Homo sapiens: one gene and its partners. The protein of the gene in region 1 interacts with the protein of each later gene in a pairwise test. Each region holds a gene or a part of one and is shown on either strand. Other genes may lie near its edges.

Evidence for each region.
Region 2: the proteins of UBE2B (region 1) and HERPUD2 interact in binary tests that used the Homo sapiens proteins (3 or more experiments, as listed by UniProt).
Region 3: the proteins of UBE2B (region 1) and ZMYM2 interact in a two-hybrid assay, tested with the Homo sapiens proteins (one study listed by BioGRID).

What each region holds. Positions count from the first base shown.
Region 1 is NC_000005.10:134,387,579-134,393,356, forward strand, and holds the end of UBE2B (ubiquitin-conjugating enzyme E2 B), read left to right. Parts: intron 1-746; coding exon 747-835; intron 836-2,646; coding exon 2,647-2,775; 3' UTR 2,776-4,530; downstream 4,531-5,778. UniProt on the Homo sapiens protein: E2 ubiquitin-conjugating enzyme that accepts ubiquitin from the ubiquitin-activating enzyme E1 and transfers it to a E3 ubiquitin-protein ligase. In vitro catalyzes 'Lys-11'-, as well as 'Lys-48'- and 'Lys-63'-linked polyubiquitination.
Region 2 is NC_000007.14:35,692,136-35,700,645, forward strand, and holds the start of HERPUD2 (homocysteine-responsive endoplasmic reticulum-resident ubiquitin-like domain member 2 protein), read right to left. Parts: upstream 3,001-8,510; 5' UTR 2,666-3,000; exon of another isoform or gene 2,493-2,665; 5' UTR 2,196-2,492; coding exon 2,049-2,195; intron 1-2,048. UniProt on the Homo sapiens protein: Could be involved in the unfolded protein response (UPR) pathway.
Region 3 is NC_000013.11:20,079,858-20,087,726, reverse strand, and holds part of ZMYM2 (zinc finger MYM-type protein 2), read right to left. Parts: intron 5,712-7,869; coding exon 5,597-5,711; exon of another isoform or gene 5,591-5,596; intron 4,947-5,590; coding exon 4,695-4,946; intron 4,072-4,694; coding exon 3,951-4,071; intron 1,906-3,950; coding exon 1,713-1,905; 3' UTR 1-1,712. UniProt on the Homo sapiens protein: Involved in the negative regulation of transcription.

The sequences.
Region 1 (5,778 bases):
TCCAAGAGCATGGCGCCAGCACCTAAGCAAGGTCCTTGGTGCTGTGACATCCCATGGTGGAAGGCAGAATGACAAGTGAGCACACAAGACATAAGAAAAGGTGCCAAACTCATCCTTTTATCTGGAGTACACTCCTGCCCTGAGCACTCATGACCTAAGCACTTCTTAAAGGTCCCACTTCTCAACAGTGTTACAATGGCAATTAATTTTTTTTTATTTAATTTTTTTACTTTTATTTTTTTGAGACAGGTTCTTACCCTGTCATCCAGGCTGGAGTGCAGTGGTGTGATCTCAGCTCACTGCAACCCCTGCCTCCTGGGTTCAAGCGATTCTCCTGCCTCAGCCTTCCAAGTAGCTGGGATTACAGGCATGTGCCACCATGCCCGGCTAATTTTTATAATTTTAGTAGAGATGGGGTTTCACTGTGTTGGCCCGACTGGTCTCAGACTCCTGACCTCAAGCAATCCTGCCTGCCTCGGCCTCCCAAAGTGTTCAGGACTGGCGTGAGCCACCGTGCCCAGCCTCCAGCAATTACATTTCAACATGAGATTTGGAGGGAACATTCAAACCATAGCAGGTGCAAAATAAGAGACCTTAGTTTTAAGACAGGTTATCCTGTGATACAGAAGAATTTAGTTATTACCTAATATTTAAAACTTCTAAGCCAAGCATTCTGTTTGGTAAAGATTTCTCTTAACTGTTAGATATGGCAGAGTGTGTAACTAATTTTAGTATTGTCTTTGCAGTGTATGCTGATGGTAGCATATGTTTAGATATCCTTCAGAATCGATGGAGTCCAACATATGATGTATCTTCTATCTTAACATCAATTCAGGTAAGTGTGTGTTAGGATGTATTATAATTTGTCAGTATTCTGTAGGATATAGTCAGCTCCTTAGCACACAGGTAACCAATGGCAGAGCTTGGACAAGAATCCATGCTTTTCAGCTAACTTTTCTCTTTCAGTAGTGCCTACTTGGGATCCAGTCTGCAGTCCCTTTCCTGATTGTGTAAGTTACATGTTCTCACAGGTCAAACCTAATTTGTGTCCATGAAGCATAGCCAAGGGTTGTGGAAAAGAAAAAATGGCTTGGAAAAACCATAGGAACCTAAAGAAACTGCCAAGTGTAGATAAGCATTGAGTATGTTACCCCATCCAAGAAATTCTATTTTAAAAAAAGAAAGGAAAACTAATGTAACCATTTGTCGAAGCAGTCTGGCAGAATATTTCAGAATAGATCTTTGAATGAAAATTTAGGAGGGGTGGAGTGAGGGGTGTTTCGGTTTTGTGGATTTGAGAGGAGCAGAAATAATATGTTGGTTTGTGATGTTCTTTTTAAAGTTTTTTCTCTCACACTTCTTTAATTGTTTTTTTTTTTTTTTTTTTTTTTGAGACAGTGTCTTGCTCTGTTGCCCAGACTGGAGTGCAATGGCACAATCTTGGCTCACCGCAACCTCTGCCTCCCGGGTTCAAGTGATTATCCTGCCTCAGCCTCCTGAGTAGCTAGGACTATAGGCACATGCTACCACGCCTGGCTAAGTTTTTGTATTTTTAGTAGAGATGGGGTTTCACAGTGTTAGCCAGGATGGTCTCCATCTGACCTCATGATCCGCCCGTCTGAGCCTCCGAAAGTGTTGGGATTACAGGCGTGAGCTACTGCACCAGGCCAGTTCTGGTCATCTTACAAGCGTTGTTTTTCAACCTTCCTATCTCATTCTCTTCCTGCTAAATGTATATGTTTTGTTGATTAAAGGAAATAAGACTTATCTCCCAAATTTACTGTCAAGACATTTGCAAAGTAACTGCAGTAATAGAGTTTAACCTTGGAAAATGTTGGTTACTGAGAATTATTGATATCTTAACCAAATTAAGCTGTTTATTTCCTTGGTTTAATGAGAACGTCTCAATATGCTTAAGAATATTCTTTTCTGATTTCTTTCAAATTATAGGTATTTTTTTCTTTTCTTTTTTCTTTTTTTTTTTTTTGAGACGGAATTTCACCCTTGTTGCCCAGGCTGGAGTACAGTGGCGCGATCTCAGCTCACTGCAACCTCTGCCTCCCGGGTTCAAGCAATTCTCCTGCCTCAGCCTTCCGAGTAGCGGATTACGGGCATGCGCCACCACACCCGGCTAATTTTGTATTTTTAGAAATTACGGGGTTTTCTCCATGTTGGTCAGGCTGGTCTCGAACTCCCTACCTCAGGTGATCTGCCCGCCTCGGCCTCCCACAGTGCTGGGATTACAGGCGTGAGCCACCACACCCGACCTCTTTTTCTTTTTTAATAGAAACAGGGTCTCCCTATGTTGCCCAGGCTGGGCTTGAACTGCTGGGCTCAAGGGATCCTCCTGCCTTGGCCTCCCAAAGTGTTAGGATTACAGGCACAAGCCACTGTACCCAGCTGAAATTATAGGTCTTAAGGCAATTGAGAACTTTATTTCAGAAGCTTAAGTTCCTTAGCAGCAGGAAACCCCATAGTATTTATCAAATCATTTCTAAAAGTATTTAGACCCAAAATTATATGACATGTTAATCTCTGAAGTAATTTGTTGTTTTGTATAACTTTTCTGTAATATATTCCATATCTGACCCCTGTTGGTATAAAGAACAACTATGCAAATCTGTTTTTTCTTTTCTTTCCTCCTAGTCTCTGCTGGATGAACCGAATCCTAACAGTCCAGCCAATAGCCAGGCAGCACAGCTTTATCAGGAAAACAAACGAGAATATGAGAAAAGAGTTTCGGCCATTGTTGAACAAAGCTGGAATGATTCATAATAGACAACTGGTCTGTTAATCTTTTTCATCATTGTTGTGTATAATTTACCTCTCATTAGAAAGGCTAACAAATTTTAAGTGCCACAGGTTTTAAGGATTCTGCAGAAAAAAAAGAAAAAAGTCCTTCAGTTTAGAACCTACAAAAGCTTGTGTATCTTGATTAATGTACTTTTTATTGCATGGTGTGAACTAAGTTATTGCTGCATAAATTTGTAATATATCCTGTTTGTATTTTTTTCCAAGTGTATAATGTTGGTGTGGAGTTTTCATGACAGAATATACACATTTTGTAAATCTGTACTTTTTTCAAATATTGAATGCCTTATTTTTGAATTCTTTAGATTTTTAAATTGGAGAAAAGCACTTAAAGTTTTTTATATATGAATATTACATGTAAAGCTGTTAAAATACATAACTTCAGTGCAAGAGACTTTGTCACTTATTTCCTTATGTGTGTAGGAGGGGTTAATAAGTCTCTAGCTCTCCATCTATTGATAGTTTCATTTACAATTTCAAAAGAACATTCTTATATTTTATCAAGGAAGTCTTCAAATTTGATTCTAAATAGCGATTATAATCTCCAACTTTATTTTGAATGTACCTCTATTAGTTTCAATTGAGTAATTCTAGACATAACTGGTTTGACTCTGTCCAACTCTGTATTTAGGCCATTTGTTACAGTTTCTTCATGCATTACTTACTGTTAAAACTGTACCTTTTGCGATTTCACAGTTGGCACTTCTGCCATGAGCAGAGAACTGATGCGACTTGTTTTGCTGCTTGGTAGCACTTTAAAAAATTTTTTGATTAATGAAGAAAGTAAAACCATAAACATTTGCCAAAAATTCATGCCCCAGTATTAGCAATGAATTAGTTGCATTGGTTTGAGAAAGGCACATATTGGAGGGAAATCTTGGTGTAACTTAAATATTTGAAAATTACCTTTAATGCAATGCATATCTGTTTATTCTGGGAAATGTTTTAATGCCAGGGCCTGCTGAGTTGCTTCTTCTTGTGGAGATTTTTTTTTTAATCTCCTGAGTTGTATAAAAGTTGTACTGCATCTTAGTTTACTGGATAAATTTAAAACACAGTATTGTAGAAAGCTAATACAAAACTATCCTATGCCTTCAAATAGTATAGAAAATGGAAAATATACAAGTAAATTCTGTTGAACCACCTGTGTAGTCTCTCTAGTAGTTAAAACAGCTATTTTAGTAACCCCAAGAGTTTCTTCTCATATCCATAAAATTGGATTACAGTATGGCAATATCTACAGCTTCTATTCATTATGCAACGTTTAACATTGATTGGATAAATGCTTATAGGCTGGGCCAGGTGGCTCCCACCTGTAGTCCCAGCACTTTGGGAGGCAAAGGCGGGAGGATCACTTGAGGCCAGGACTTTGAGACCAGCCAGGGCAACATAATAAGACTTTTCTCTACTTTAAATTTTTTAAAAAATTAGTTGGGCATAGTGGCACTTGCCTGTAGTCTCAGCTACTTAGGAGGCTGAGGTGGCAGAATAGCTTATGCCTAGGAGGTTGAGGCTGCAGTGAGCTGTGATTATGCCATTGCACTCCAGCCTGGGTGACAGAGCAATACCCTGTCTTTAAAAATAAAAGCTATTACTTGGCAAATTCTGAGGTAAGTGTATGATCTTAGGGAACTTTGATACAAATGGGAATTCACTCACTGGAATCGTGGCTCCCAAAAAGATGCTTTAATTGTGTGGTGCTTTTATAGTTTAGCTCCAAAACAAACTATAGACATTCACTCCAGTAACTCCTAGATTAAATATACAGTAGCTATGAGGGTCTGCCCTCTTATTTCATTAAATGCTATTTGGTTACTATTTCAACATCCATTTTTATCCTTGACCTGTTTTTGCCTTTCCCAGTTTAAAACAGGAAAATTTCAAGTATTGGTAGATAATTATAAAGAAGTTACATGTTACTTTACAGGGAGGTCAGTGAGTTCTAACTCCAAAATTCAACATATGCATAAAACTCATAGCATCCACATTCCTTTTCGAGAAAATCCTTAAGAAGGTTCAATCTATACATAACTCCTCACTTTTTTCTGCAGCCTTGGAACAGATTCCTATTTCTTTGGTTAAGTACCAGATATAAACCTTCGATTTACAAGGTTGAGTCATACAAAAAGTGTTTACTTTAAACTCTAGGTCAGTTTCATAAATGTATGGTAGGGCAAGAAGCTAGAACTAAAATGTTTATGTTGGTACAAAGTTATATTGATGGATTCATGTTAAAAAGTTTAAATGCATGTGTGATACAATTCCCTGTAACAATACCCCAGCACAGAATAATCTGTGAAAGGCACTATTCTAAGCACTTTTAACATATATTATTTCATTTCAAATTCACAAATACGGTGGCTCATGCCTGTAATCCCAGCACTTTGGCAGGCTGAGGTGGGCGGATCACCTGAGTTCAGGAGTTCAAGACCAGCCTGGCCAACATGGTGAAACCCCCCGTCTCTACTAATAATACAAAAATTAGCCAGGCGTGGTGGCAGGTGCCTGTAATCCCAGCTACTCGGGAGGCTGAGGCAGGCGAACCACTTGAACCTGGGAGGCAGAGGTTGCAGTGAGCCGAGACCTCACCACTGCACTCCAGCCTAGGCAATAAGAGTGAGACTCTGGCTCAAAAAAAAAAAAAAAGATGATAATGAAACTAGCCACAGATAGACAGATGAAGTGACTTGCTCAAGATCAACCAGCCAGTAAGTCATAGAACTGGGATTTGAACCCTATGTGGTCTTACCCAGAAATGTGCTATCTTTTAAGAGGTTGAGATTGGTTTTAGAAATTCTGCAGAACTTCAACATCCAAATTTGTGGAAATACTTTTAACTGATTTAGTTTTATACAGACTTGTGTCTACTCCAATGAAAAGGTTTCCTTTTTTTTCCGAGACAAGGTCTTGCTCTGTTTCCCAGGCTGGAGTCCAGTGGCTCCAGGCGGCTCACTGCAGTCTCAACCT
Region 2 (8,510 bases), on another chromosome or scaffold:
GGCAGTTTGGGAAGGAGTTCTGTAACAGATCTCATCCTCAGACAGCTAACTAATGCACAGCGGCACTGACATCCTCCACTAGTGATCAGTGCTGCACAGGCAGACCTCCTGCCAAAAGCAGGCCTCTTCATGGGTAGATAAGGCAGACAGGCTTCCCACTCCCGTCTCAGGTACTTTTTTTTAAAAAAGCTTTAGAAAAAAGTCTATAAACTGCAGACTAGGTCCCTTTTGGTTTAATAGTACAATGTAAAGATCTCGCCTACGTACATACCAGAGCATATATTTGCTATGAACAGTATTATGGAAGTCTATGACTTTCAATTGACTATCCTAAAAACCTATTTTCCACTTCAAAAATGTGTGAAACTAATCATATGCAACAGGAAATCTTTTGTAATCAAGGTATTTTCAAACAGATTCTTACTCCCTGTGTAAATCTTAACTTTCAAACAAAAGATGTGAATAAACAGGGGCTCTAACTAGTTTAAGTACTTAAATTCCTCAGGGTTTTTTTTCCCTCCTACTAAAAATATTTGTATCACAAAGTACTGATAAACACAGCTAATGCCGATTAAGAGTTGTTTTTCTAAACCTCCTGTTTTTGCAATAACCGTCCTATTTCTGTGGTTCTTCTGCAAGTCTAAAAGCCTAACTAAACTTAATACTACAACACTGAAATGCTCATAATTCATTAATATCGTAATATAGATCAAGTGTCTTCCTTAACTTAGGTGCATAAAACAAGTGTTAAGTGTAGAAAGCATAGTTGCCTTCCAACAGATCCATGCTTAAATGTACCTGATGCCAAAAGTTATTTCCCACCCTAAAATCCGACCCTCTTTATTAAACAAAAGTTTTAGTAATTAAACACTACTTATTCAAGAATAAAAAATGTATACAGTGGAGAATGCGAAAGCCTCACTTTCATATACAGTACTCTACATGACGGTATACTTCTTTTCTAAACTATTCCAAGACTCCTTGATTACCAACCACGGCCTTTCAAATCTGACTTTGGGGACAGATGGAGCTGTACTGTCTATATTTTATTTATTATCTCTGCAATATCCAGTTATGATTCAGAATGGAACACAGAATGGAAAAGCCATATGAGAGGGATGCACCAAATGGTGGTGGGGTGGAGGGCAGTTCTCTTTTAAACTAATGTCCATGTATCCTCTACAGGAGAAAAATGTTGAAAGGGGTTGTGGTGAAAACGAATCTACAACTTATAATTCTTTGGTCCTTGAAACATATATAGTAACCTTGAAAGTATAATTTTTATAGGGGACACATACTTATTTCTAAGAAAAAAAAATCTTCAATTTCTGTTTAAGTTTCTGGGCCAAGTGTTGAAAGTAAAATGGAATTTTAGTGTAATAAGCAATAAAAGCTCTGATACGGGTTGTAGTGCTTTATCTTTTTTTTTTTTAAGAAAGGATATATCTCTCACTCGCATATTAGGTTGATGACTTTAAGTCCAAAGAAAGTAGTCCCTTTTCCATGCCTGCCAATTCTTTGAGACAGAGTCTCACTGTGCCACTCAGGCTGGAGGGCAGTGGTGCGATCTTGGCTCACTGCAACCTCCGCCTCCCGGGTTCAAGCGATTCTCCTGCCTCAGCCTCCTGAGTAGCTGGGATTACAAGCATGCGCCACCACGCCCAGCTAATTTTTGTATTTTCAGTAGACATAGGGTTTCACCATGTTGGTAAGGCTGGTCTCGAACTCCTGACCTCGTGATCCGCCCGCCTTGGCCTCCCAAAGTGCTGGGATTACAGGTGTGAGCCACCGCGCCCGGTCTTTGCCTGCCAATTCTTAAGTCCCTTGATATTTCTGCTTCCTCTTACTAATTAACTGAACCTCATCAGGAAAATATTAATGATGGTTCGAACACTCAGGAGACACAACCTCAGAACTCAAAATACCTCGCGGTCTACCAAAAGAGACCTATTTGATTCAAGACTGGAGGGGAGAAGCAGGAAAAAGGAGGGTACACGGCACGAAAAGCTGCTGGTCAGAGCAGCTGCCCCCAGCTTTTACACACTTACTGGTTTGCTAGGGTAAACGTTAGATAGATGCGTTTTTAGTTTCCCCACGGTCCAGTTCAAGAAGCAGCTAATAGTCTGGTCACTGTATTTCTGATTCGGTGCTTTAATGATGAGGGTCACAGGAATCTCCATCCCACTTTGGTCCATGGTGCCCCCAAAGTCAGACAGAGTCCAGAGGAGCGGCAGTTAAGCCCAAAAGAGCCGAGATGGTCACCGCCGGCGCGACTGGGATGAGGACAGAAGTGAGTTCTTAGTATTCCGTGTCCAAGTCAGTTACAAGTGCACTGGAGGATACGAAGCCCATTGCCGGTACCAAGGATGGACTGAGGTGGTGGCGACTGCGACGGTGGGGTCTGGGTGCCCGGCCGTGGAGGCAGCTCTCCCCGCCAGGTCCGGGCTCCGCCGGGCTCCGGACTGTGGAGGCCGTCGTGAGGAGAAAGGAAGCTATACGAAGGAAGGGTGGGAGGGATGAGGGCACAACGGCCGGCCCGGGGTCACTGCCCCGCCCCACCGCGACCCCCAAGCTGGAACGCAACAAGGCCCCTACGCCACGGCCCCGCGGTGCGGATCGGGGAAGCAGCTGGGCCGCTCAGGGCGGTCAGCGGGCACTGGGGTACCTGAGAGAAGGCCGCGGGGCCCGCCACCGCCGCCCTCCGCGCCCAGGCAGGGCCGCCAGCCACACCGTCCGGCCAGGCGTTTTCCGTGGCAGCCGCTCCCTTCCTGCTGCGCGGCGACCGGCACGGCCCAGCCCCGGGTCTCGCGAGGAGGCGCGGGTGAAAGGGAGAGAAGCTGACCGAAGGCGCGGCCCGGCTCTCCGCCTGACCCCTCAGTCTGGACAGCGCAGGGTGGCGGCAAGGCAGGGCTGGGCCGGGGGCGGCCCAGGCGACTACAGGTAGCAGGAGGGCGGGGACGAGAGCCGTTGCGCCACCGCTGGCGCGCCGGTTTTGTTGTTATTGCGAGGATTGTCTGGGGCCCCTTTAAGCCGGAACAGGCAGGGCGGAAGTGCGTCACCGGCGGCACGCCCCTGCACATGGACCTCCCCCGTCCCCGCCATCCCTGCCGATCCTGTTGCTGCCGCCTTCCCGCCGTGCTCGGGCTGCCCGGGACTCTAGCCGCCAGGCTTCGCGTCGCCCAGCGGCAGATCGGGCTCCTGGGAGCCTCTCCCCTGGCCGTTTGCTCGGCCTCGGCCCCAGCTGCCCTGGGGCCTAGCCACTAGCTCCCCTGGCGCTAGCCTACCCTGTCTTGACCGCACCCTGAAGATTTGGGAAGTCTTTCTCCATCCCAAGAGTCGTCTCTGCAAAAGTTGGTGTCCTTCCTGGTGCTGAACCACGCTTCTGCTCAAAATGTGTTGAGCGTCGTCTGTCTGCAAAGCACGGTGCCAGGAGCTTTGGTGGAGAAGGCATGGGGTACATGTGTAAAGAGTACAGGCTTTTGGTTAAACCTGAAGTCCTCCTCTACTTTCTGGGGGACCCTGGCCGTCCTTGCTGAGCCTCCGTTGACTTCTCTAATGGGGACGGTAATGCCTACCTGACCACAAGCTGATGAGTAAATGAGCTATGAGTGCAAAGTGTGGTGCAGTTCTGGCGTGTGCCAGCCTCTCAAGTGTCAGTTTCCGTCTCATTCCTCTTAATCTTCACTAAAATGGACAAGTATTCATTGAGCACCTAATGCGTGTTCAGTATGGTGGGAGATGAGGGATGACAGTATTATTTTTCTATTTTATAGGTTAGACATAGAACAAAAGGTTGAGTCTATTGCCCATAGCCGAACTTTTCTTCATTTTCTACTGTGGTTTAGAAGTCGGTATAGTAAGTTAAGGGTTGTTAGATGTGCATTTTCACAGCTCCCAGCTTCCACTTAGGAGTAGATAACATAGGGGACTTTGCGAGCTGGTCTCTTTCCCTCTTAGCTTCAGAAGGGCTTCGAGGTAGCCACCACTGAATTAGTTGAGAGACAAGGCACCCCTACGGAGGAAATCTCAACTGCACAACCCCTACTGTGCCCCAATTCAGCAGGAAGCAGTTAGAGCGGTGGTCAAACCTCCCCAATAGCACTTGGGTTTTCCTGTTGAGAGGGGGTACTGAGAGACAGGACTAGTTGGATTTCCTAGGCTGGCTAAGAATCCCTAAGCCTAGCTGGGAAATTGACCACGTCCACCTTTAAACACGGGGCTTGCAATTTAGCTCACACCCGACCAATCAGGTAGTAAAGAGAGCTCACTAAAATGCTAATTAGGGAAAAACAGGAGGTAAAGAAGTAGCCAATCATCTATCGCCTGAGAGCACAACAGGAGGGACAATGATCAGGATATAAACCCAGGCATTCAAGCCAGCGGTGGCTACCCTCTTTGGGTCCCCTCCCTTTGTATGGAAGCTCTGTTTTCACTCTATTAAATCTTGCAATTGCACACTTTTCTGGTACGTGTGTGTCACAGCTCAAGCTGAGCTTTCGCTCACCGTCCACCACTGCTGTCTGCCGCTGTCACAGACCCACAGCTGACTTCCATCCCTCTGGATCCAGCGAGGCGCCCATTGCTGCTCCTGATCGGGCTAAAGGCTTGCCCTTGTTCCTGCAGGGCTAAGTGCCCAGGTTCGTCCTAATCTAGCTAAACACTAGTCACTGGGTTCCACGATTCTCTTCCATGACCCACAGCTTCTAATAGAGCTATAACACTCGCCGCTTGGCCCAAGATTCCATTCCTTGGAATCCATGAGGCCAAGAACCCCAGGTCAGAGAACACAAGACTTGCCACCATCTCGGAAGTGGCCCGTCACCATCTTGGAAGCGACCTGCCACCATCTTGGGAACTTGGGGAGCAAGGACCCCCAGTAACATAGTGACCAGGAGGAAATTCTTCCTCTCAACAGCTAATGCAGCAGGATCTCTTACACCGTACCCTCCCTCACCTTGCTCTTGCTCTTCATGGTAGAACACGTACCATATCTTAGCTGTACTCTATCAACTGCGCATCTGAAGTAAAGAGTGAAGTCTTCTTTGTTTCCAGTCATGGAGCAACAACTTGCTATGATACTGGCCTTCTGTAGCTGACTCTTCTTTGTCTACCCAGGCACTCTAATGGAACTTTAATTCTAGCTAAAGTTATTTTCTCAGACTCCTTTGAAGCAAGGGGCAGCCATTTGACACACTTCAAGCCAATGAGTTGAATGTTGAACTTATTGCTGAGGCTTCTAAGAAAGCATATAGATGGAAGGGCTCTGCGAATCAGAGCTCATCTTTGCCCTACACCTGTCTTCCAGGAGGAACGTGAAGAGCTACAGCACTCATAGTTCAGTCATGAAACAACAAACAGGAGAACAATGGCCTGCATTCCAAGGATGGCAGAGCAGAAAACTGTAAAGAGGCTGGGCATTTGATGGCATTGTGGTGCCACCAGACAAGCCCTAAGCTATCTTCCCTAAGACTTCTTGTTTTGGGTCAAATTCCTGTTTAAGCCAGGAAGTTTTCACAACCTTCACCACCCAGTCCTGCAGCTGTTGTCTCATGCTTGTGACTCAGACTTCCAGGAATCCTTTAGAAGTGATGTGGTGATCTCGTTTGGCACTATGCAATGTACACTATTAATGAAGGTACCCTAATAATTATAAATATTAAGACAGAATGTGCATTTCACAGTGATTTAAACACTCTTTAACACTCTTTAAAACAGTCCATCAAAGGTTCGCTAACACAGAGAAAAACATTTAAAATTGTAATAAAGGCTGGGCGCAGTGGCTTGCCTCTAATCCCAGCACTTCAGGAGGCCGAGGCAGGCAGATTGCTTGAGCTCAGGACTTTAAGACCAGACTGGGCAACACGGAGAAACCCCGTCTCTACAAAAAAATTCAAAAATAAGCCGGGCGTGGTGGTGCACGCCTGTGTTCCCAGCTACTCTGAAGGCTGAGGTGGGAGGATTGCTTGAACCCAGAAGGTAGAGGTTGCAGTGAGCTGAGACCATACCATGCACTCCAGCCTGGGTGATAGAGTGAGACTCTGTCTCAAGAAAGAATAAAAAGTAAAAATAAAATTGTAATGAACATTCAAGAAATTGAAATATACGGGTACAAAGATGATATAGTATCAGAAAAAATGATTTTTTTTAAATTTTACAGCCACTTGAATTAAGTACCTAAAAATGCTTTTGATGCTGTTGAGCTTGGCTATGATAACAACAGTATGTAAATATTCCACTTTTGTTAAAATATGTATAAACAGGTATGTGTACAGAGCAGTGTATGAAAGGGTGGTCCCCAGAATATTGATAGTGTTTGACGTGGAATTTGGGCTAGGAAAAATAATTACCAATGAGGAGATACAAGATAGCAGCAGTTAGGGAGAGGCCGTCCATGCAGCTGCCTATTTAAATCACTGTCCATGTTAACAGATAAGAACTGGAAATGTCAAAGAACAATTGCCCAGCTCAGTTACCATCTGCTACTAAAGATAGCCCCAGCTGGGTGCGATGGCTCACACCTGTAATCCCAACACTTTGGGAGGCTGAGGCAGGTGGATCACCTGAGGTCAGGAATTCAAGACCAGCCTGGCCAACATGGTGAAACCCCATCTCTACTAAAAATACAAAAAATTAGCTAGGTGTGGTGGTGCATGCCTGTAATCCCAGCCACTAGGGAGGCTAAGGCAGGAGAATTGCTTGAACTCTGGCAGCAGAGGTTGCAGTGAGCTGAGATTGTGCCACTGCACTCCAGCCTGGTCGACAGAGTGAGACTCAGTCTCAAAAAAAAAAAGCCCGTAATGAGAACTCTCAAGAGTACCATGGTAATATAATATGGTAATAGATAATAAAAGAGTCATGATCATTAATAATAAATATAATACTTCTACTTCAACTGAGGAATGGAAAACTAAACATCATATGTTCTCATATGTCCCTAAGCTATGAGGATGCAAAGGCATAAGAATGATACAATGGACTTTGGGGACTTTCAGGGAAAGGGTGAGAAGGGCGTAAGGGATAAAAGACTACAAATTGGGTTCAGTATATACTGCTCGGGTGATGGGTGCACCAAAATCTTAAAAATCGCCAAAGAACTTATGTAACTAAATACCACCTGTTCCCCAAAAAACTATGGAAATTAAAAATTAAAAAATAAGTATAATTTCTGCTTTAGCGATATTAACTATTCAGTACACAATAAGTGAGTTTAGCAATTCAGTGATTTCTGACTGTTGGGTAGCTCTCTTTGTTAACAAATAAAATATAAATTTGAAGAAACTTATTTGTAAATAATGGTTTTCTGTGAATTAATGGGATGTTTGTTTACTTCCACTTCTTCTTTGAGGTGTAAAAGAGAACAGCTAGAAAACACATATTGTGGCTGGGGCGGTGGCTCACACCTGTAATCCCAGCACTTTGGGAGACCGAGGCGAGCGGGTCACTTGAGGTCAGGAGGTTGAGACCAGCCTGGCCAACATGATGAAACCCCGTCTCTACTAAAAATACAAAAATTAGCTGGACATGGTGGCACGCACCTGTAGTCCCAGCTATTCAGGAAGCTGAGGCAGGAGAATCGCTTGAACCCGGGAGGCAGAGGTTGCAGTGAGCCAAGATCACACCACTGTACTCCAGCTTGAGTGACAGAGTGAGACCTCCATCTTGGGGAAAAACAGTAAAAAAAAAAAAAATTGATTCATTCAGTGAGATTACAGTTTCCTTTAAAAATTCAAAGTAAGTGCTTGTCACTGAGCTTTTCTTACTGAAATTTGGAGTACCTTCCAGGAAGCTAAAATACTTTTATGATGTTGAATAGTATAGTTTGAGTTTGTTAGCTCTCTTGGAAGGAAAGACTTCAAGTGATGATCTTGCGGTTTCAAGTTTCAGAGATGATGTTGGCCATCTGGCTTCTGATTCCATTCATTTCTACTTTCACCATCCTTGTCATTTTTTAAAGAGACTGTGTCACAAAGCATCTAATCAAATCTTAATCAAGTTTATTGTTTTTAAAAAATGAAAACCTACATTGGAAGCCTAAGAAAATTAGCTCATTTCAACACTCTACTTTAAAAATCGTAAATGGTCCCAGATGTTTGATCACAAGTCATCTTGTAGGAAATGAAACAAAACCATTCATTAAATCCCAAATGGTGTTTTGAATTATATGTCATCTAATGAATTCTTAGAACAGTCTCGAGAGATAATGAGGACACTGAAGCTCAGAAAGGGTAAGTATCCTGCCCAAAATCACACAGTAAGTTCCAAATAGAGCTCTGTCCCCACTGTAATGCACACACTTTCCACTACACTGAACTTTATTACTTAAAGATAATCATGGGTAACAAGACACATTCAGGAGGAAAAGGCTTTCAGGAACATCTTAGAGATCATCTAGATCAGTCTTCTAGGTACTGCCAGAATGAATCAGTCTTACCACATCTCTGAAGGGTGATCAGCCAATTGACATAGCTCTTTCCAGAGACAAGGAGCACCATAGTTTTTACTGCAACATG
Region 3 (7,869 bases), on another chromosome or scaffold:
AATCAAGGGACTGAAAAGTCATTCAACTTATAAAACAAGTTAGAACATTATAATTTTTTATGCCAAAACATTCAGATAATTATTGCTTAGATATACAATAATGACACCTGTGAAATTTTCCAAATCAGAATTGAGAAAATTTCTTTTGTGTGCTGTAACATTTATCCTATGGGAGAGAGGAGTATCTAAGGATGTGTAGCAATTGCTAGCCACTATGGAAAATAGCTCAATTTTCCCCTGAACAATTTCTAAACACTAATGCTACCATGGTCATTCAGGAATCAGAAGAAAACATGATTACACACATGCTAGAAAAGAGCCAAATGATTTCAAGATAATTTGCAGCTAGCACTTTGTTCAGTCTTTAGAAAGTAGATTTTAAGTTTCCTTATTCTAAAAGAAAAGGTCTGAATGGATAAATTGCTATGCAGAAGCACAAAGTTGTTTTTTTTTTTAATGCAATCTTCTATAAGAAGTAATTTCAAAAGCCAAACAATCTAACATTAAATGGGATTTCCTCTGAGACTGACTTTCTCTATTAGTTTCTTTGTTTGTTCCTCAATCATTTGCAATATCAGAATTACTACACTGGTAATCTTCATTATAAAATGTGATCCTATCTTATTTAACATAGCTTGACTTTCTGTAACTATTTCAGGAGTGGAATTTCTAAAAACAATTTTATCCAATGTAAACAGGCACAAGAATTCTGATAAAATTGCTAAGTTTTAGAGTACTACACAGCTAACATTGCAGCATGATCTGTATCCTTAAGAGGGAAAAAAAGAAATAAAAATCAAACCTCTATAAATGAAGAGGATTTCAGATACTTATGGCTGGCATAGAAGAAAACAGAATTTTATACTTTCACCAGACATTTTTACAAAGGAAATGTCTTGATGATCTTGTTTTCAACTTACAATCATTTATATATATATATATATATATATATATACACACACACATACATACATATATATACATATATATATTTGTTTTTTATTGATTGGGTGATGCAGAAAGCCACAAATGAGAAAAGGACACTAAGGTTTTAATAAGGGGAACAAAAAATTGTTTTCACCAGCATAGATTCACATTACAGTACACCAATATTGACAGCATTCTCTTGTCTATTTTTGGTACAGAAGATGGTATCTCTCTACATAACCTTGTAAGGCTTCAGTAACTAAAATGTAAAACCAAACAAAACAAAACCCCAAAACAAAACAAAAACCCCAGCCTATTAGTTTACAGTTTATTTTAAAAATTCCGAAAGACACTGCAAGTTCTAAACTTTTAGTAGTGCTACCCATACACAACCATCTGGTTAAGAACCCAGTAAAAGAGCCCCCTTCCAAGGAAGCTTTGCAACAGTAGAGTTGTGCAATATGGATGTTTCTTACTACAAGAAAAAAATTATACATGGCACATTCTCATTCATATTCTGTAATGTAAAAAGTTACAAACATACCTAATCAAATAAATAATAATAAAAAAAGAATTTGAATGTATTTGTTAAGTATCCTAAAACCACTACATAGAATAATGGCAACTTTCACTCACAGATTATTTACATGGTAATACCCAGCGTGGGTACACTGCTACAAAACTCAAAACAGAAGGAGTAAACTTGAAATGTTTTCCATAATAAAGATCTAGCAGCATGACTATCTAATGCTGTTTTATCCCGATTGCTTCTGCAACGTTCCTTTTTAGTCTGTGTCTTCATCCAGTTCATAATTGTCTTTATCATAAATATCTTTTACTAGAAGAACCCGTACAAGCATATTTTCCAAGGTGTTTCGGTCCAGTGAAGTAGACGTATACCAGACAGGGCTATCTGTAGAACTAGAGCATTCTGGTTGCAAATAAAAAACATCCATCCTCTGATTAAGATTCTGTGGACTTTGGAGGCGGGAGGAAAAAGAGAAAAAGTCAATTTCACAAAATTTCCACAACTTTTTCTTTTTTCAAGAATAATTCAGACCCCATTAATCACGTTATATGACCAGACCCCCTATGCCCCACTGTCTCCATTATTCTGTCATTAAAATATTCTCAAAGTTATTTTCTGAGATAGAGATTATTTCCCACAATTTTAATTCTACTTCACTAAATCCAAGACACTATCAATAGACACACCACTCATTATTTTAATGCTACCATTAAGCAAGTGAAACACTGCCAATTATGATTTCAAGATGCAACAATTTAAACTGTGCATCCCAGTTTCAGAAATAGTGAAATGTGAAAATGTCTTAGAATTGATGAAATATGTATGGCAGCACATAAAATTAAAAAATTCTTACAGCACTACATAATAGAAACTCAATTTTTAAAATACCAACAAGGTAATAGTGAGATAGGAATTTCCTACTAACAAATAGTTACTACCAACTGAAGACCCTGACACTACTGCAGCCAAATAGGACCACCCTAAACCATGGTGAGAAATACAGGCTGAGCATCCCTAATTCAAAAATCCAAAATCTGAAACTCTTTGCCAAAATGACACCAAAAGTGGAAAGTTCCACACCTGACCTCATGTGAGGAGTTCGCGCCCAAAACACAGGCACATAACACACAGGTTATTCAGCAACCCCAAGGGGAAAATAAAATCACCTTCAGGCTATGCATAAATAAAATTATCTTCAGGCTACATGTATAAGGTGTATATGAAATATAAATGAATTTCATGTTTAGAGTTGGGTCCCAGCCCTAAGACATCTTATAATGTATATGCAAATATTCCAAAATCCGAAAAAATCTGAAATCTAAAACACTTCTGGTCAGAAGCATTTTGGATAAGGCGCATTCAACTTGTACTAATATCATCCTATACATGATACTATTGTTTTTACAAGTCCTTGAGGGCCATCCTGGGGACCTGTGATTTATAAATTTGTTTAAACAGGGAAGTACATTTTGAATTCATGCTGACCTTCTGAAAATTAGAGAGTGCTTACTTAAAACAACAGGCAAGCATAAAATAATCTATGGTCTCTAAACGTTTTATTGGCTTAAACTTTTTAAAATGCCTGTTGGTCTGAGATTGAGGGGAAAAAAAATTCCAGAACATGATTCCATTTTTCATACCTGCTTGACTGTTTTCTCTTAAATGTAAATACTTCACTTACATTTCCACCTATCTATACTACCTTTGAGCATACCTTTACACCGGGCATTGGCAAACTACAGCCAGCCACCTGCTTATGTGAAGTTTTATTATAACACAGCCACATGCCATGAATTTATATATAGTATATGGCTGCTTTCTAGTCACAAGAGAACCGATTAGTTACAATAGTGATTCCATAGGCCCAAAAGCCTAAAATATTTACCATCTGACCGTTTAAGAAAAAGTTTGTGTCCCTTGCTTTGCTGTCATTGGAATTGCTGTAATTTAAAAGACAATGACAGGCGCAATGGCTCATGCCTGTAATTCCAGCACTTTGGGAGGCTGAGGCACGAGGATGGCTTGAGGTCAGGAGTTCAAGACCAGCCTGGGCAACACAGTGAGATCCTGTCTCTACAAAAAATACAAAAATTAGCCAGCTATGGAGGCACATGCCTGCAGTCCCAGCAACTCAGGAGGCAGAGGGTGGGAGGATGGCTTAAGCCCAGGAGTTTGAGGTTGCAATGAGCTATGATCACGTGCCACTGTACTCCAGCCTCGGTGAGAGAGCAAGACCCCATCTCCAAAAGAAAATGACAGCAGTAGAAATTTCATTAGTAGAGAGAGATTTCTTAACACATGCTTAAACTCTAAGTATGATGTATAAACTGGGTATTTCAAAATAAAAGATTATAACTGAATGAACTTGGGTATAACTGAGAGAGAAGAAATCTGAGAAAGAATCCATCTAAAAAAGTCACTTCTTGGTAATGTTAAATTTAAACCAGCCAACTTCTACCAACATTTTTAAAAGTTAAGTATCATTAACACTCACCTTTTAGACAAGTAGCATTCAAACATTTTCACAGGACATCTGGAAGGATTGGCTGTGTTTTCAATTTGTTCAAATACTGGCTCATCATCTTCATGTTTTCTTTTTCCAGTAGTAATTTTATCTTAAAAAATAAAAGTGAAATAAACCTCCTAAACTAATCTTGAAGAAAGATATAAACATCACTCCTAGTGTCTGTTATACCAAAGAATAGGACCAGGTGCCCCTTGGAGTTTTAAGTTATGGCTTCTGGTAATGTACAATTTTTCAAACAAAAGGAACTGAGACATCTTAAGACATAGGTTGTCTTATTTTATAAAACTGACAGTCCTTAGGTTCTTAACAAGTGACCCAGGTGGTCTTTAGTAAGGCAAGGTTTGGATATCCCTACCATAGACAATCCCAAAATAGAAATCTGGGCCATGCGTGGTGGCTCACGCCTGTAATCCCAGCACTTTGGGAGGCTGAGGTGGGCAGATCACCTGAGGTCGGGAGTTCGAGACCAGCCTCACCAACATGGAGAAACCCTGTCTCTACTAAAAATACAAAGTTAGCCAGGCATGGTGGCGCCTGCCTGTAATCCCAGCCACTCAGGAGGCTGAGGGAGGAGAATTGCTTGAACCCAGGAGGTAGAGGTTGCGGTGAGCCGAGACTGCACCACTGCACTCCAGCCTGGGCAACAAGAGTGAAACTCTGTCTCAAAAAAAATTTAAAAATAAAAATAAAAATAGAAATCTGTTACACTACCTTCATTATCTGTTCCACACAAGGAAGACACTTGGTATCGAAGACACGCTTTGTTTTCCATCGTTAAAGGATTTTTTTTCCAATGCCTAAACACAGTGCCAAAGGAAAGTCTTAAGTGTTGTTCCACTGTTTTCAGGCCAAAATACTTAGTGTTAAAGTAGAACAGTGTATTCAGAAGAGCTACTGGAGAGTGTGATCCTAGTTGTTTTATCCTCCAGAGATAGTCTTCTTCAACTCGAGAGAATATTGACCCTTAAATAGAGAGAACTATTTTAAAAGAATTATAATAAATAAAAGTTTTCATTTAACCATCTAGAAGCAGACACAGTTAATTTAAGGACAAATCTATACCAATTCTCCTTTCATATTAGATCAACTAGAATAATTCTAGAATTACCTATGCAGCTCTTTAACAATACAGAGGCTACTATGGAACTATTATCTATGGAATAAGGGACTGGATGTTTGCTTCTGTTCTTCAGTAGGACAAGCAAACAGTGGTCAGAAAACAGTGTAAATCCTTTTAAAATTAAAATTCAGGAATTTAAATTCCTGAAAAAAATTGATGACTCCACATACATACACATTTTCTTCACGGACTGAAAACAGTGGTTTAAGAGAAATTTACATCAGAAGCTCCACTGGAAGGCTTAAGACATGAACATCCAGTCTCGTACTCCAGAGAAAGTAGATTACATTTCTTACAAAGTTCTTCATAAACACTAGTTATTGACCACATTTGTTTCTAATTCAACAAGAGATGAAAGGCAGATGAGCTCGAGTAAGTGTTCAGAAAATGTTATCTAATTTAAGTGACTTAATTATAATATTTTCAAACATACTCTGTAAAAATAACAATCCTAATATCAAGAGAGCAACACCTTTAGTGAAAATAGCATTACCATCTGGAAGTATGCTTGGTTGCCAGCTTCGCAGTATTTTATTCAATTCTTGCTCAAATGTTTGGTATCCAGGATCAATAAATATGTTGTCTTTTCGATTACTTCCACACAAATACTATAAAAAAAAAAAAAGCCCCACAAACTTTCTTGAAAGAAAATCAGCTAATTATAGTAAACATATTACACTCCGTATTTCTTAAGAAAAAAATAAAGCTTTATGTCTTTGAAATGCATACTAAAACATGACTGATTTTATGTATGCACCTAGAAATTATAAAGAATCATAAATTATCAACAAATCTGTTGCTTGAAACACTCAAAGCTGAAATACACACCCCAGAATCAAGAATGTAAAAACTGGATGACAATCTTCAGTCTGTCAGACAGAAAAAAAAAAGAATATTTGACTCCCGTGTTTATTATATAGTGCATGAAGAAAAATGTAAATTTTAAAATAAAAGTGTTTTTTTCTTTTTAGTTTTTTTTCTTATAAAGTAAGAGTTATAATTAAGGTAATGACTAAAGAAAAACACTGAGTGGTAAGAATGAGAGGAAATGTTATCTGTAGCTATTGAAAGCTCTCTTCTAGCACTCTGACTTTGTCAGGCTAACGCTTTTTTCTTATTGTCTCTATATTCCTAATTCTCCACCTGTAAAACAGTGCAAATTTATGAATCTTGTAACTTACTGTCACAAACCTAGAAAAATCTTAACAGTGAGGGTGGTTACAGAATCATTTAAAGTATAAACATTAGTGGGGCTTAAAGAGAAAATAACATAAAATTATATGATAACAGCACAAAGAATGGAAGGCAAGAATTGGGAGTACACTGTTCTAAGGCTCTTAAACTACATGTGAAGTAATATAATATTATTTGAATGCAGACATGTTAATTAAAGATGCAGATTGTAAACCTAAGGTAACAAGTAAAACTTAAGAGGTACAAATAATAAACCAATAGTGGAAATAAAGTGGAATCACAAAACATATTAATTCAAAGGAAGGCAGAAAAAGATGGAAAAACAAAGAACAGATAGAATACAAAACAACCAGAAGGATAACAGATTTTAATTCAATGACAGCAGTGATCATATTACACTAAGCCAAGGTTAGGAAACTAGAGTCCTGGAGCCATATCTGGCCCATGCCTATTTTTATAAAGTGTTCTTGGAATACAGACATACTGGTTCATTTGCATACTGTACAGCAGCTTTCATGTTACAGCATAGTTGAATGTCTGCATGACATACAAGCATGACCTGTAACCATGTACCATTTGGTCCTTTATTTAAAAAGTCTGTTGGTCCCTGGTCTAAACAGCAATTAAAAGACAGATACTGGGGTGGGAGTGGTGGCTCACACCTATAATCTCAGCACTTTGGGAGGCCAAGCCAAGCAGACAGCTTGAGCTCAGGAGTTCAAGACCAGCCTGGGCAAGATGGTGAAACCCCGTCTCTACAAAAAATACAAAAATTAGCCAGGCGTGGTGGCATGTGCCTGTAGCTCCAGCGACTTGACGGGCTGAGGCAGGAGAATCACTTGAGCCTGGGAGGTCAAAGCTGCAGTGAGCCATGAGATCACACCACTGCACTCTAGCCTGGGACAGACCGAGGCCCAGTCTCAAGGAAAAAAAAAAAAGAGACAGATATTGTCGGATTCAATTTTTTTAAAGGCAAGGTTCGACAATATGCTGTCTACAAAAAGCCTATTTTAAATAAAAGAACAGATAAGTGAAAAGTAAAAGAAAAAATGTACACCATGTATACACTAATCAAAACATAAGAATGCCATCATCTGAGTTGATCCAATGTTATTCAAACTAGTCAAAGGAATATTAGTCAGCAAAATTCTAAAATAGTAGAACAAAAACTCCTAATTAATGTCTTTCAAATACAATGATAGACCAACTGATAAAAGCCTGGCAAATCAAGAAAGTGACAATGCTAGGTTTCTCCCCTGCTTTTGGGTTAGTTAAAGGGTTGATGCTCTAAAAATAGCATTTCCTAAACTACCTGGAGATCCTCATTGTTATGAATGAGAACAGCAGTGATTGCTTAAAATATAACATCATGATTCCAGCTATTTAACGGGACTATAAACTTTTGCATTGTTTCTGGATTTCTAAATATACAAACTTAGTTGGGTATTACATAAAACAATCACTAAAGTAAAATCCCCAAGTTTAGAATAGCAATTTATATTTTTTGCTTTTATCATAAAGCAACATGTGTAATAAAAAATGAGGGAAATGATTCTGAAATAATTATTTTCA